Linked DNA regions of Homo sapiens: regions 1 and 2 are each linked to region 3. Evidence: fine-mapped expression QTL. A gene starts in region 3. Each other region holds a variant in brackets. All regions are shown on one strand. Distances are between the middles of the regions.

Region 1 (5,222 bases), 860 kb after region 3:
TAACAATTATGGTTGATTTCCATTTTCTTTTTTGTATTTTTCTTTTTTTTAAATTATACTTTAAGTTTTAGGGTACATGTGCACAATGTGCAGGTTAGTTACACATGTATACATGTGCCATGCTGGTGTGCTGCACCCAGTAACTCATCATTTACATTAGGTATATCTCCTAATGCTATCGCTCCCCCCTCCCCCCACCGAACAACATGCCCCAGTGTGTGGTGTTCTGCTTCCTGTGTCCATGTGTTCTCATTGTTCAATTCCCACCTATGAGTGAGAACATGCGGTGTTTGGTTTTCTGTCCTTGCGATACTTTACTGAGAATGATGGTTTCCAGCTTCATCCATGTCCCTACAAAGGACATGAACTCATCCTTTTTTATGGCTGCATAGTATTCCATGGTGTACATGTACCACATTTTCTTAATCCAGTCTCTCATTGTTGGACATTTGGGTTGGTTCCAAGTCTTCGTTATTGTGAGTAGTGCCGCAATAAACATACGTGTGCATGTGTCTTTATAGCAGCATGATTTATAATCCTTTGGGTATATACCCAGTAATGGGATGGCTGGGTCAGATGGTATTTCTAGTTCTAGATCCCTGAGGAATCGCCACACTGACTTCCACAATGGTTGAACTAGTTTACAGTCCCGCCAACAGTGTAAAAGTGTTCCTATTTCTCCACATCCTCTCCAGCACCTGTTGTTTCCTGACTTTTTAATGATCACCATTCTAACTGGTGTGAGATGGTATCTCATTGTGGTTTTGATTTGCATTTCTCTGATGACCAGTAATGATGAGCATTTTCTCATGTGTCTTTTGGCTGCATAAATGTCTTCTTTTGAGAAGTGTCTGTTCATGTCCTTCGCCCACTTTTTGATGGGGTTGTTTGTTTTTGTCTTGTAAATTTGTTTGAGTTCATTCTAGATTCTGGATATTAGCCCTTTGTCAGATGAGTAGATTACAAAAATTTTCTCCCATTCTGTAGGTTGCCTGTTCACTCTGATGGTAGTTTCTTTTGCTGTACAGAAGCTCTTTGGTTTAATTAGATCCCATTTGTCAATTTAGGCTTCTGTTGCCATTGCTTTTGGTGTTTTAGACATGAAGTCCTTACCCATGCCTATGTCCTGAATGGTATTGCCTAGGTTTTCTTCTAGGGTTTTTATGGTTTTAGGTCTAACATTTAAATCTTTAATCCATCTTTAATTAATTTTAGTATAAGGTGTAAGGAAGGGATCCAGTTTCAGCTTTCTCCATGTGGCTAGCCAGTTTTCCCCACACCATTTATTAGATAGGGAACCCTTTCCCCATTTCTTGTTTTTGTCAGGTTTGTCAAAGATCAGATAGTTGCAGATGTGTGGCATTATTTCTGAGGGCTCTGTTCTGTTCCATTGGTCTATATCTCTGTTTTGGTACCAGTACCATGCTGTTTTGGTTACTGTAGCCTTGTAGTATAGTTTGAAGTCAGGTAGCATGATGCCTCCAGCTTTGTTCTTTTGGCTTAGGATTGACTTGGCAATGCGGGCTCTTTTTTGGTTCCATATGAACTTTGAAGTAGTTTTTTCCAATTCTGTGGAGAAAGTCATTGGTAGCTTGATGGGGATGGCATTGAATCTATAAATTATCTTGGGCAGTATGGCCGTTTTCACAATATTGATTCTTCCTATTCATGAGCATGGAATGTTCTTCCATTTGTTTGTATCCCCTTTTATTTCACTGAGCAGTGGTTTGTAGTTCTCCTTGAAGAGGTCCTTCACATCCCTTGCAAGTTGTATTCCTAGGTATTTTATTCTCTTTGAAGCAATTGTGAATGGGAGTTCACTCATGATTTGGCTCTCTGTTTGTCTGTTATTGGTGTATAAGAATGCTTGTGATTTTTGCACATTGATTTTGTATCCTGAGACTTTGCTGGAGTTGCTTATCAGCTTAAGGAGATTTTGGGCTGAGACGATGGGGTTTTCTAGATACACAATCATGTCATCTGCAAACAGGGACAATTTGACTTCCTCTTTTCCTAATTGAATACTCTTTGTTTCTTTCTTCTGCCTGATTGCCCTGGCCAGAACTTCCAACACTATGTTGAATAGGAGTGGTGAGAGAGGGCATCCCTGTCTTGTGCCAGTTTTCAAAGGGAATGCTTCCAGTTTTTGCCCATTCAGTATGATATTGGCTGTGGGTTTGTCATAAATAGCTCTTATTATTTTGAGATCCGTCCCATCAATACCTAATTTATTGAGAGATTTTAGCATGAAGGGCTGTTGAATTTTGTCAAAGGCCTTTTCTGCATCTATTGAGATAATCATGTGGTTTTTGTCATTGGTTCTGTTTATATGCTGGATAACATTTATTGATTTGCATATGTTGAACCAGCCTTGCATCCCAGGGATGAAGCCCACTTGATCATGGTGGGTAAGCTTTTTGATGTGCTGCTGGATTCGGTTTGCCAGTATTTTATTGAGGATTTTTGCATCAATGTTCATCAAGGATATT[G/T]GTCTAAAATTCTCTTTTTTGGTTGTATCTCTGCCAGGCTTTGGTATCAGGATGATGCTGGCCTCATAAAATGAGTTAGGGAGAATTCCATCTTTTTCTGTTGATTGGAATAGTTTCAGAAGGAATGGTACCAGCTCCTCCTTGTACCTCTGGTAGAATTCGGCTGTGAATCCATCTGGTCCTGGACTTTTTTTGGTTGGTAAGCTATTAATTATTGCCTCAATTTCAGAGCCTATTATTGGTCTATTCAGAGATTCAATTTATTCCTGGTTTAGTCTTGGGAGGGTCTATGTGTCGAGGAATTTATCCATTTCTTCCAGATTTTCTAGTTTATTTGTGTAGAGGTGTTTATAGTGTTCTCTGATGGTAGTTTGTATTTCTGTGGGATCGGTGGTGATATCCCCTTTATCATTTTTTATTGCGTCTATTTGATTCTTCTCTCTTTTCTTCTTTATTAGTCTTGCTAGTGGTCTATCAATTTTGTTGATCTTTTCAAAAAACCACCTCCTGGATTCATTGATTTTTTGAAGGGTTTTTTGTGTCTCTATTTCCTTCAGTTCTGCTCTGATCTTAGTTATTTCTTGCCTTCTGCTAGCTTTTGAATGTGTTTGCTCTTGCTTTTCTAGTTATTTTAATTGTGATGTTAGGGTGTCAATTTTAGATCTTTCCTGCTTTGTCTTGTGGGCATTTAGTGCTATAAATTTCCCTCTACACACTGCTTTGAATGTGTCCCAGAGATTCTGGTATGTTGTGTCTTTGTTCTCATTGGTTTTAAAGAACATCTTTATTTCTGCCTTCATTTCGTTATGTACCCAGTAGTCATTCAGGAGCAGATTGTTCAGTTTCCATGTAGTTGAGCGGTTTTGAGTGAGGTTCTTAATCCTGAGTTCTAGTTTGATTGCACTGTGGTCTGAGAGACAGTTTTTTACAATTTCTGTTGTTTTACATTTGCTGAGGAGAGCTTTACTTCCAACTATGTGGTCAATTTTGGAATAGGTGTGGTGTGGTGCTGAAAAAAATGTATATTCTGTTGATTTGGGGTGGAGAGTTCTGTAGATGTCTATTAGGTCCGCTTGGTGCAGAGCCGAGTTCAATTCCTGGATATCCTTGTTAACTTTCTGTCTCGTTGATCTGTCTAATGTTGACAGTGGGGTGTTAAAGTCTCCCATTATTATTGTGTGGGAGTCTAAGCCTCTTTGTAGGTCACTCAGGACTTGCTTTATGAATCTGGGTGCTCCTGTATTGGGTGCATATATATTTAGGATAGTTAGCTCTTCTTGTTGAATTGATCCCTTTACCATTATGTAATGGCCTTCTTTGTCTCTTTTGATCTTTGTTGGTTTAAAGTCTGTTTTATCAGAGACTAGGATTGCAACCCCTGCCTTTTTTTGTTTTCCATTTGCTTGGTAGATCTTCCTCCATCCTTTTATTTTGAGCCTATGTGTGTCTCTGCACATGAGATGGGTTTCCTGAATACAGCACACTGATGGGTCTTGACTCTTTATCCAATTTGCCAGTCTGTGTCTTTTAATTGGAGCATTTGGCCCATTTACATTTAAGGTTGATACTGTTATGTGTGAATTTGATCCTGTCATTATGATGTTAGCTGGTTATTTTGCTCATTAGTTGATGCAGTTTCTTCCTAGCCTCGATGGTCTTTCCAATTTGGCATGTTTTTGCAGTGGTTGGTACCTGTTATTCCTTTCCATGTTTAGTGCTTCCTTCAGGAGCTCTTTTAGGGCAGGTCTGGTGGTGACAAAATCTCTCAGCATTTGCTTGTCTGTAAAGGATTTTATTTCTCCTTCACTTATGAAGCTTAGTTTGGCTGGATATGAAATTCTGGGTTGAAAATTCTTTTCTTTAAGAATGTTGAATATTGGCCCCCACTCTCTTCTGGCTTGTAGAGTTACTGCCAAGAGATCCACTGTTAGTCTGACGGGCTTCCCTTTGTGGGTAACCCGACCTTTCTCTCTGGCTGCCCTTAGCATTTTTTCCTTCATTTCAACTTTGGTGAATCTGACAATTATGTGTCTTGGAGTTGCTCTTCTCGAGGAGTATCTTTGTGGCGTTCTCTGTATTTCCTGAATGTGAATGTTGGCCTGCCTTGTTAGATTGGGGAAGTTCTCCTGGATAATATCCTGCAGAGTGTTTTCCAACTTGGTTCCATTCTCCCTGTCACTTTCAGGTACACCAATCAGTTGTAGATTTGGTCTTTTCACATAGTCCCATATTTCTTGGAGGCTTTGTTTGTTTCTTTTTATTCTTTTTTCTCTAAACTCTTCTCGCTTCATTTCATTCATTTGATCTTCAATCACTGATACCGTTTCTTCCAGTTGATTGAATTGGCTACTGAGGCTTGTGCATTCGTCATGTAGTTCTGGTGCCTTGGTTTTCAGCTCCATCAGGTCATTTAAGGACTTCTCTGCTTTGGTTATTCTAGTTGTCCATTCGTCTAATGTTTTTTCAAGGTTTTTAACTTCTTTGCCATTGGTTCGAACTTCCTCCTTTAGCTTGGAGTAGTTTGATTGTCTGAAGCATTCTTCTCTCAACTTGTCAAAGTCATTCTCCGTCCAGCTTTGTTCCGTTGCTGGTGAGGAGCTGCATTCCTTTTGAGGAGGAGAGGCGCTCTGATTTTTAGATTTTTCAGTTTTTCTGCTCTGTTTTTTCCCCATGTTTGTGGTTTTATCTACCTTTGGTCTTTGATGATGGTGACGTACAGATGGGGTTTTGGTG
Region 2 (5,222 bases), 23 kb after region 3:
GGAGGTCTTATATAGAATACATATTTCTGGATTCTTTTGAAAAATGGGAAGAACTACTACCATAGGGTGGCATTCCCTCCTGACGCCAGTTGACTGAAGCCAAACAGCACCCCTGTTGAGATGGGTGTCCCCACAGCTCCCCATGCTCTGCTGGGCCATTTGGGTTTTTTGTTGTTTTGTGGTTTTTGGTTTTTTTTTGGGGGTTTTTTTTTTTTGAGATGGAGTCTCTCTCTCTCTCTCACCGAGGCTGGAGTGCAGTGGCACGATCACAGCTCACTGCAACCTCTGCCTCCCAGGTTCAAGCGATTCCCTTGCCTCAGCCTCGCAGGTAGCTGGGATTACAGACATGCGCCACCATGCCTGGCTAATTTTTGTGTTTTTAGTGGAGACAGGGTTTCACCATGTTGGTCAGGCTGGTCTCCAACTCCTGACCTCAGGTGATCTGCCTGCCTCAGCCTCCCAAAGTGCTGGGATTACAGGTGTGAGCCCCCGAGCCTGGCTCATTAAGCTGTTTTCATTTTGAATAGAAAACAATGCGATCCGTAATTTTCTGGATTAATGCTCCTGTCAAAAATTTTGCTCCCCACCTCACTGATTGCCTCAGCACGCAGCCATGTAGTCTACTCCGTCCCTGCTGATATGTTCTCACAGTTGGAAAAAAGTTGTAAAGAAAAGGCGAGCAGGTGGTATTTAGTGCCATGTTGAAAGAGGTGGCTACAATGTAGAGCTTGACCAGGGGCAGTCAGGGACAACCTCTCAGAAAAGGTGATACTTAAGCTGAGTCTCAGGTGACGAGGGGTCAGCCGTGTGCAGATGTGGGAGACAGCATTTCAAGCAAGGGGCATGGCCAACTGTAGGCAGGCCCAGGCTTGGAATGTTTGGAGAGCAGAGGAAGGGCCAAGTGGTAGGAGCATGGTGAACGCAGAAAACTCTCCAGGGCCCAGGTCATACGGGGTCTTATAGGCGCCCTTTTCAGTATCTCTGGTTCTCTTGCAGTTTGCTGGGAAGCCACTGGAGGGCTTTAAGCAGGAAAGCAACAGCCTGCGTTTTCCAAAACTCTGAAGACTGGAGAATGGCTTCACGTAGGAAAGGGAGGAGAAGGAGAGGGTGACTTGGACCAGGGCAGTAGCTGTGGAGTCGGAGGGAAGCAGACTTGTCACATATTGCCTTGGCAGGAGAGCCAGCAGGATGCCAACGGCAGGTGTCAGGACAGGACCCAAGGCTGGTGCTTGAGTGTGGGTGGCAGCACCTGGGGGAAGGTGGTGTCACCTCTTGAGATTGACAAGACTGGGGGAGAAGTGGACTGGAGGGCACCATCAGGAGCTCTGTGTGGGCCTGGGGGGTTGGGGCACCTGTTAGATGTACAGAGGGGAGACAGTGGTATCAGATGGCTGGGCAGTAGATCAGTCAGTCATTTTCACATGTGGCCGCTCCACACCACTAAATGCAGTTTTCTAAACTACATATTCGTTGGCCTAGTTTTAAGCTAACATCTTTTTTTTATTTTTATTTTTTGTAGAGATGGAGTCTTGCTCTGTCACCCAGGCTGGAATGCAGTGGCACAATCATGGCTCCCTGCAGCCTCAAACTCCTGGGCTCAAGGGGTCCTCTGGCCTCGGCCTCTTGAGGAGCTGGGAGCCGCCATGCTTGGCCACATCTACATTTTTAATCATAAATTTAAGTCGTTGCAAAGGATGTAGTTGTTCATATATTGACATTTTTGATACTTTAATACTCAAATCATGCCATTAATGATGACACTGGCTGGGCATAGTGGCTCACACCTGTAATCCCGGCACTTTGGGAGGCTGAAGCTGGAGGATTGCTGGAGTTCAAGAGTTCGAGACCAGGCCGGGTGCGGTGGCTCACGCCTGTAATCCCAGCACTTTGGGAGGCCGAGGCGGACGGATCACGAGGTCAGGAGATGGAGACCATCCTGGCTAACATGGTGAAACCCCTTCTCTACTAAAAATACAAAAAAAAAAAAAAATTAGCCGGGCGTGGTGGTGGGTGCCTGTAGTCCCAGCTACTCGGGAGGCTGAGGCAGGAGAATGGCGTGAACCCGGGAGGCAGAGCTTGCAGTGAGCTGAGATTGCGCCACTGCAGTCCAGCCTGGGCGACAGAGCGAGCCTCCGTCTCAAAAAAAAAAAAAAAAAAAAAAGTTCAAGACCAGCCTGAACAACATAGTGAGACCTGGTCTGTAATTAAAAAAAAAAAATTCATGCCAAGCCACTTTTCTTTGTCAGAAATTAAAACCCTTTTTCTACTTGATTTCCAATTTCCATTCCATTCATTTCCCCAATATATCTTTATGCATGAAAGCCTTTTATTGATTGTCCTATCATTTTTCTCTGCAACAAAAATATGCATATAAATTGATAGGTTTTTAAAAAATTATAATATAGGCTTCTGAGCATTAGGTTTTTTTTTCTGGACTGAGATAGAATTTTGATTATTATTAGCTGGTATGTTAGTGGATGAGTATACTTGTAGTTTGAATGTGATAGCATTGAGAACAGATTCTATTCCTGTTTTTCATCTTCATGATGTGCTATGAAACCTTACTTACATGAATAAGTAGATGGGAAGGGAAGTTTTGTTAGAGGAATGTCACTCAGTTCTTTGAATTCCTTCCCAGTTGTAAGTCAAAAAATCACATAGTGATCTTTCATGTAAAGTTGTTTATAAAAGTTATTTACAGAGTTGACAGTTTCATTAATTAAGTTCTTCACTTTCTCTCCACCAGCATAGTTATTTCAAATTGTCCTCTTTACTTGGGTCTGGAGGTTCTGCACTCCAGGATGATCCCCCTGTAAGAGTCAGGTGGCTGAGAGCATGCCCTTTGGGGATCAGGTTGCTAGAAGGTGATTGTTAAAAGAGACAGTGGGAGACCCAGGGGCAGTGGCTCACGCCCGTAATCCCAGAACTTTGGGAGGCCGGCCGAGGTGGGTGGATCACCTGTCAGTTCGAGACCAGCCTGACCAATATGGTGAAACCTCGTC[C/G]CTACTAAAAATACAAAAATTAGCCAGACGTGGTGGCGGGTGCCTGTAATCCCAGCTACTCGGGAGGCAGAGACAGGAGAATCGCTTGAACCCAGGAGGTGGAGGTTGCAGTGAGCCAAGATTGCACCAGTGCACCCCAGCCTGGGCAACAGAGCAAGACCCTGTCTAAAAAAAAAAAAAAAGACCATGAGGGGAGCACAGACCCTCCTTTTGGCAGATGAATGTAGACAGAGTTGATCTGGAGTTTGGGATCTTGAGTGTAACACCCACAGCCACATCCCCTTTGGAAAGCCTGTGTGTATCCGCAGAGAGGTTTGTATTCTAGTTTGAAGCCTTCTGGGGTATTTGAGCCCGGACTTCTGGGGAAGGGGGGTAAGGAATGGCAATGTAAAGTGGGGATCATTACCAGAATGCACATCAGGGGAGCATTGGGCCAGATGCGACTTCCCGAGGGTGCACAGGGCCCTGAGGACTTGCCCCAGCAGCGCCCATGAGGCGACAGCAGTGGGCCACTGCCACACTGCAGAAACCGAGAGGAGGAAATGCCTTGAGATCAGGGGCCAAGTCAAGTCACAGGCCACCCAAGGTCAGGCAGCCTCTTGGTTTTGTGGCTTCGAGGTCCCTTGTGGGGATGGTGGCCTAGATGAAGTAGGCTGGGAAGAGCGTGGAAAATGAGAAAGCAGGGGCAATGACTATAGGCAAGTTTTGAGAAGTTTGCTGCGAAGGAGAACACAGATGTAAAAGCAGGACAAGGCGGAGATGGGGCTGTGAAGATAAAAGGTGCTGGCGCACACCTGAATGGAAATAGAATGATCCAAGAGAAAGGGAAGTAGCACAAGAGGGGAGGAGGAGCTGCATGGCTGGAGACCCCTGTGAGAAAGCAGGAACAGGACAGATTCAGGATGTCCTGTCGGGGCATGGACCCTGGAAAGCTGCGGACACCAGGAGGGCAGGCAAGAGAGTCTCATCTCTTGCTCCCTAGGAGCTATGAGTTGAGGGCGCCGTCTGAGCAGGAGGGACGGACGGGTGCCCAGGGTTTGAGGAAAGAGGGGTGTGGGAAGGACGCATGCTAGAACTTCAGAGCAGTTCAGCAGGTGCAGAATGGGAGTTATCATGGGGACTGTGGGAGAAGGGGCGGTGGGGGCAATGCCCAGGGATGTTCTGATTCATGTTCTCTGTGCTGCAGGTGAGCGTGGCTCTGGGCTGTGCCTCCCGTGGACGGACCATTGCTTTTGCTAGCACCTTTGCTGCCTTTCTGACTCGAGCATTTGATCACATCCGGATAGGAGGCCTCGCTGAGAGCAACATCAACATTATTGGTTCCCACTGTGGGGTATCTGTTGGTAAGGGTTCTAAATGCCATCATCTTGGTAGCCTTCCTCCTTCACAGAGAAAGATTAGCATGTGATTGGTTAAACCACGAATTTCCTTATGGTTCCATGAAGTTTGATTATTCAAGCCTTTTTCTTGAAAAAGCCATATTGTACTTTAAAAGTGTCAGACTCTCAGGGCAACTTTTGAAGTGCATCTCTCGGTGGTACTGTTGTTTCAGACAGTGAGAAACAGTTGCTTATCCCGAGTGCCCCTTGTGTGTTGAGCTGCGTGCAGGTTATGGACAGGACTGGCAGAGTCATGGAGCCTTTTCTGCCCTCGCTGTGGTTGCAGTCTAACTGAGGGTGAACAGCATCACAGAGGACGAGGAGCATTCTGGCTGGCTGCACAGCCTGCTCAGGTGGGAGGGGGGCTGGGACCACCATCACCACCTTCCTGCCTGGGGCAGCGAGAACCCTGGAGCGTGACACGAGGCAGGAACTCTTACAAACACACCCTTCTCAGAGTAGTAGTCACCTGGCAGGTGGGCTAGAAGGAAACCACAGGAAACGGGAAGCCAGAGAGGGGATTGAAACAAGGTGTGCAAGGTGGTGGGGGAGAAAACCAGGGGGGTGGGGGGGGACCTGAGAGTGAAGAAAGAGGTGAGTGTGCCTAACAGATGGAGCACTCTGCAATGGCGTGAAGAGCAAAACACACGAGTCTCCGGGATTCCTCACTTGGGAAACGTCAGAGAGTCATTTTCGTGAATGACAGAAATGACATGGGAAAGATGAGCCAGCTGGCGTGCCTGTGGCAGGCAGATGGGCTTACTAGATGTGGCTGCACACACTTGCTTCTAGAATGCCAGAGATGCACGCTGGAAAGCCATCTCAGGGACTCCCTGGGAGA
Region 3 (5,222 bases):
CAAACAAGAAAAAAAAAGGCTTGAAACATATCTGATAGATAAAGGGCTAATCAACACAATATATAAAGAACTGCAAATCAGTAAACTAAGAGCAAATAACCCAATATAAAGACATTAAAGGGTAGCCACGGACATCTCAGACGACGAAAAACAAAAGACAGTAAACGTATAATAAAACATGTAATTGCAAGGTGATCCGGGAATAGTAAGCGAAAAGCAACAATTAAATACTATTTTCTCATCCACCAGAACGCCAAAAATTAAAAAGCCTAACAATGTCCAGGGCTGGCGAGAATGTGGCAGAAGGTGATGTCACATACCCTGCAAGTGGGAATCTAAACAGATTCAGGGTTTTGGTTTTTTTTTAATCGCAATTAGGTGGCCTGTTAAATTTTTTTTCTTGAGACAGAGTTTTGCTCTTGTTGCCCAGGCTGGAGTGCAATGGCTCGATCTTGGCTCACCGCAACCTCGACCTCCCAGGTACAAGCGATTCTCCTGTCTCAGCCTCCCAAGTAGCTGGGAGTACAGGTATGTGCCACTACACCCAGCTAATTTTTTTGTATTTAGTAGAAACGGGGTGTCTCCATGTTAGGCTGGTCAGGAACTCCTGACCTCAGGTGATCCACCCACCTTGGCCTCCCAAAGTGCTGGGATTACAGGAGCGTGTGCCACTGTGCCCAGCCACTTTTTTTTTTTTTTTAGACGGAGTCTTGCTCTGTCGCCCAGGCTGGAGTACAGTGGCGCCATCTCAGCTCACTGCAACCTCCGCTTCCCGGATTCAAGTGATTCTCCTGCCTCAGATTCCCATTAGCTGGGATTACAGGTGCCCACCACCGCCTGGCATGGTGGCTCACACCTGTAATCCCAACACTTTGGGAGGCCGAGGTGGGCAGATCACCTGAGGTCAGGAGTTCGAGACCAACCTGGCCAACATGGTGAAAACCCGTCTCTACTAAAAATACAAAAAATTAGCCAGGTGTGGTGGCGGATGCCTGTAATCCCAGCTATTCAGGAGGCTGAGGCAGGAGAATCGCTTGAAGCCAGGAGGCAGAGGTTGCAACGAGCTAAGTTCGAGCCACTGCACTCCAGCTTGGGCGACAGGGCGAGACTCCGTCTCAAAAAAAAAAAAAATGTAAACACACATTCCCTTTAACCCAGCAGAACATGGGAACCCAAGGGCATTCAGCCTGTGGCGCGACCAGGCGGCCTGACTTGAGCTCACGTAGAAATTCGGCATTTTTGAACCAAGAGACAGCACTTGGGATCCGGAATGTCTGGACTTGGGCACGGCGCTGTGGAGCTGGCGCCGTTGGGAGCCATGCGAGTTCTGGGTCGGTAGGTCACCTCAGAGGTGGGGAGAAGGTTCTCTGAGACCGACATGGGGGCTAGTGCTGGCACCACCGGACATGGGGCATTTCAGACACAGGGCGAGCACATTCCCTAGTTACCAGGGTTCATTCGAGTCAGTCACGTCACAGGCTGGCAATGGGCTAACTCCTCCTCAACAATCACACGGGGCTTGCCTCATAGAATGTTTTAAAAAAGGAAAGGAGGCTGGCGCAGGCGCCAACCGTCTCAGAACCCTGAGCACTGCCCCACCCCCACCCTGCCCGCCATAGCCTGGGCTGTTGTGGGGGAGGGGTGACCATTTATCACGAAACAAAAAATTGCGCCACAGCAGCTCCCTCCCTCCCCCACCTTTACGGTTGCAGCTGCACGTCCCACGTGCAGCACCACCCCCTGACACGTGCGGCACCACCCCCTGACACGTGCGGCACCACCCCCTGACACGTGCGGCACCACCCCCTGACACGTGCGGCACCACCCCCTGACACGTGCGGCACCACACAGCTAGTGCCGGAACTTTTTGTGCAGAGAAAGAAGACCCTGCACCCGCGCGGAGGGAGCCCTTTTGAGATTGCAGGAGAGAAGATGAGAATGGGACTATTTTCAATAACTGTGCACATGCAAGTCACAAACATTCCAGATCCCTTGACTTGCTTGCGGAGGGAGCGGCCGGCGGAGGGAGCGGCAGGTGGAGGGAGTGGCACGAGGCATGCGGAGGGAGCTGCACCGACATCACATAAACGCACTGGGCAGCTCGCAGGCGCCATTCGCTCTTCAGACGCCGGAGACGTAGGAGTGGGTCTTCAGACTCCAAAGGGGTTGGACTAATGGCGGATGCTGAGGCGAGGGCTGAGTTCCCGGAGGAGGCCAGACCTGACAGGGGCACCTTGCAGGTGTTGCAAGATATGGCCAGCCGCTTGCGAATCCATTCCATCAGGGCCACATGCTCCACGAGCTCCGGGTAAGTTCTCCTCATTGAAGTCTGGGTCATGCAGGGCCACGGGCCCGGTGGCTTCAGGCCTGGTGGCCATGAGGCCGTGTGGTGAAGGGAGAGCCTTCAGAGGCACAATGGGCTGTGTCGTAATGCCCTGTCTTGGGCTGTTGGGGCCCGGTCGAGCACCCTAGATGGCAGCGAGGCACTATTCCCGCCAACCCAAGGGTCGGTCGGTTGGTTGGTCAGCCGCGGGTTCTGGAGCCCGCCCCTCAATTTACCCACGGCCAAAGTTCTGGAGGTCGCCAAGATCTCCAGTTGGGAGACAAAGGATCCAGACTGGACTGAGGTGGCGGGAGAATGTCACTGGGATCAGATTGGGCTAGCTGTGGTTTTCATTTTAGCGGGGAGCAGGGCTTCCCTGGTAAGCAGTTGTACTGGATCCCCGAGGGTGAATGAGCGACTCTAACCCAGGATGTGAGGATAAAAAGCAATTAAAATTCCAGCCTGGGCAACATGGCGAAACCCCGTCTCTTACCAAAAAATAAAAATAAAAAATGAGTCGGGCATGGGGGCGCACACCTGCACTCCCAGCTATTCGGGAGGCTTGCTTGTGCTGTTGGGTTTGCTGGTATGCAGTTGATGGTTTTTGCATCAGTTTGAGGGATATTGGTCTCTAGTTGTATTGTAGTATTTGGTTTTGGTATCAAAGTGTAATGCTGGCTTCATAGGATGTTTCAAAGTGTTCCATCTTAAATTTTTTGGAGTGGCTGGGTGTAGTGGCTGCCACCTGTAATCCCAAGCACTTTGGGAGGCCGAGGCAGACGGATCGTGTGAGCCTAGAAACTAGTTCGAGATCAGCCTGGGCAAGATGGCGAACCTCTGTACAAAATGTTACAAAAATTAGCTGGGCGTGGTGGCACGTGCCTGTAGTCCCAGCTACGCGGGAGGCTGAGAGGCTCAGGTTACAGTGAACTGAGATTGCGCCACCGCACTCCAGCCTGGGCAAGAGCGAGACCGTGCCTCAAAGAAAAAAAAGTTAAACCCAGCTGAGGGCGGTGGCTCACGCCTGCAGTCTCAGTACGTGGGGCCTGAGGAGGGAGGATCGCTTGAGCCCAGGAGTTCGCATTCAGCTTGGCAAACAGTGAGACCCTGTCTCTAAAAAAATAAAGTAAAAGAAACCGGGAATTGAGTACGAATTGGAACAAAAATGAGCTGTTGAATTTGCTAGTATGCGGTTGATGGTTTTTGCATCAGTATAAGGGATATTGGTCTACAGGTTTTTTTTGTTTTTTTTTTCTTTTTTTGTTTTGAGACGAAGTATCACTGTCGCCCAGGCTGGAGTGCAGTGGCACGATTTTGGCTCACTACAAGCTCCGCCTCCTGGGTTCACGCCATTCTCCTGCCTCAGCCTCCGGAGTAGCTGGGACTGCAGGCGCCCGCCACCACGCCTGGCTAATTTTTTCTGTTTTTTAGTGGAGACGGGGTTTCCCCGTGTTAGCCAGGATGGTCTCGATCTCCTGACCTCGTGATCCGCCCGCCTCGGCCTCCCAAAGTGCTGGGATTACAGGCGTGAGCCACCGCGCCTGGCCTGGTCTATAGTTTTGTTGTAGTATTTGCTTTTGGTATCAAAAGTGTAATGCTGGCTTCATAGGATGAGTTTCAAAGTGTTCCACCTTAAATTTTTTGGAGAGGTCGGGCGTGGTGGCTCCAACCTGTAATCCCAGGACTTTGAGAGGCCAAAGCAGGCGGATCGTGTGAGCCTAGAAAGTTCGAGATCAGCCTGGGCAAGATGGCAATCCCCTGTGCAGAATGTTACAAAAATTAGCTGGGCGTGGTGGCACGTGCCTGTAGTCCCAGCTACGCGGGGGACAGAGTTTGCAGTGAACTAAGATTGTGCCACTACGGCCTGGGGAACAGAGGAAGCGAGACCTTGTAGAGAAAAAAAAATTTTTTTTTGAGGAGTTTGAAGAAGACTGTTGTTAATTTTTCTTTAAATGTTTGGCAGTAATTACGAATGAGGCTTTTATTTATTGGGCGTTTTTTTTATTACTGCTTTAGTCTCCTTACTAGTTAGTTGTAGGTCTATTCAGATTTTCTTGTCCTGATTAAGTTTTGTGAGGCTTTCTGTTTCTAGGAATTTATCCATTTCTTGTAGGTTAGTCCATTTGTTGGCATGCAGTTATTCATAGTACACTGTCACTCTTTTTATTTCTGTAGAAGCGGTATTAATGACTCCACTTTAACTTGATTGTACTTTTTTTTTTTAAGCAGGGTCTTGCTCTTTCACCCAGGCTGGAGTGCAGTGGTGCAATCATAGTTCACTGCAGCCTCGAACTCTCGTGGGCTCAAGCGACTCTCCTTCCTCTCAGCCTCTTGAGTAGCTGGAACTACAGGTGCACACCACCATGCCCTGCCCATCTATTAATAGCTAGTTTTGTTGACCTTTTATAAAGAACCAGCTTTGGCTAGGGGAGGTGGCTCACGCCTGTAACCTCAGCACTTTAGGAGGCCGAGGCAGCTGGATCACTTGAGCTCAAGAGTTCAGGACAAGCCTGGGCAACATGGGGAAACCCCGTCTCTGCCAAAAATACAACAATTAGCTAGACATGGCGAGCACCTGTAGTCTCAGCTACTCGGAAGGCTGAGGCGGAAGGATTGCTTGAGGCTGCAGTGAGCCATGTTTGTGCCCTACACTCCAGCCTGGGTGACAAACTGAGACCCTGTCTCAAAAAGAAAAAAAAATTGGTTTCATTAAATTTTTTCTATTTTCTTAGTCTCTGTTTTATTTGTGCTTTGATCTTTTTTATTTCCTTTCTCCTGCTAGCTTTGGGTTTAGTCCTTACGTTGTAAAGTTAGGTTGTTGATTTGAAGGGTTATTTATTTATTATTATTTTTTGAGACAGAGTCTTGCTGTGTCGCCCAGGCTAGAGATGGGGTTTCT

Alleles and levels. Positions count from the first base shown, and alleles are read on the strand shown. Sizes are in standard deviations (SD) of each study's normalised expression. Not every link is listed here.
With allele G in place of T in region 1, the expression in spinal cord of the gene that starts at base 2,110 in region 3 is higher (moderate effect, 0.50 SD a copy in GTEx).

The links. PIP is the estimated chance that this variant, and not a neighbour inherited with it, causes the effect. A credible set is the group of variants that fine-mapping cannot tell apart.
Region 1: its variant is the best candidate, but not a certain one, in a credible set for the expression of TKTL1 in spinal cord (GTEx, PIP 0.66).
Region 2: its variant is the best candidate, but not a certain one, in a credible set for the expression of TKTL1 in T cells (TOPMed, PIP 0.86).

The regions. Positions count from the first base shown.
Region 1 is chrX:155,157,379-155,162,600 of GRCh38, forward strand. No RefSeq gene overlaps it. Among named protein-coding and RNA genes, the nearest start is that of VBP1, 56 kb to the right of the region's middle. The variant G/T (reference allele first, on the strand shown) is at 2,490.
Region 2 is chrX:154,316,569-154,321,790 of GRCh38, forward strand. It overlaps TKTL1 (transketolase like 1), which reads left to right. Exons shown (of 13, transcript NM_012253.4): 8 at 4,189-4,345. Among named protein-coding and RNA genes, the nearest start is that of TKTL1, 23 kb to the left of the region's middle. The variant C/G (reference allele first, on the strand shown) is at 3,003.
Region 3 is chrX:154,293,686-154,298,907 of GRCh38, forward strand. TKTL1 (transketolase like 1) reads left to right here and starts at 2,110. Exons shown (of 13, transcript NM_012253.4): 1 at 2,110-2,308. The coding sequence starts at 2,175. TEX28 (testis expressed 28) reads right to left here and starts at 1,439. Exons shown (of 5, transcript NM_001586.3): 1 at 1,345-1,439. RefSeq lists an enhancer at 1,301-1,802.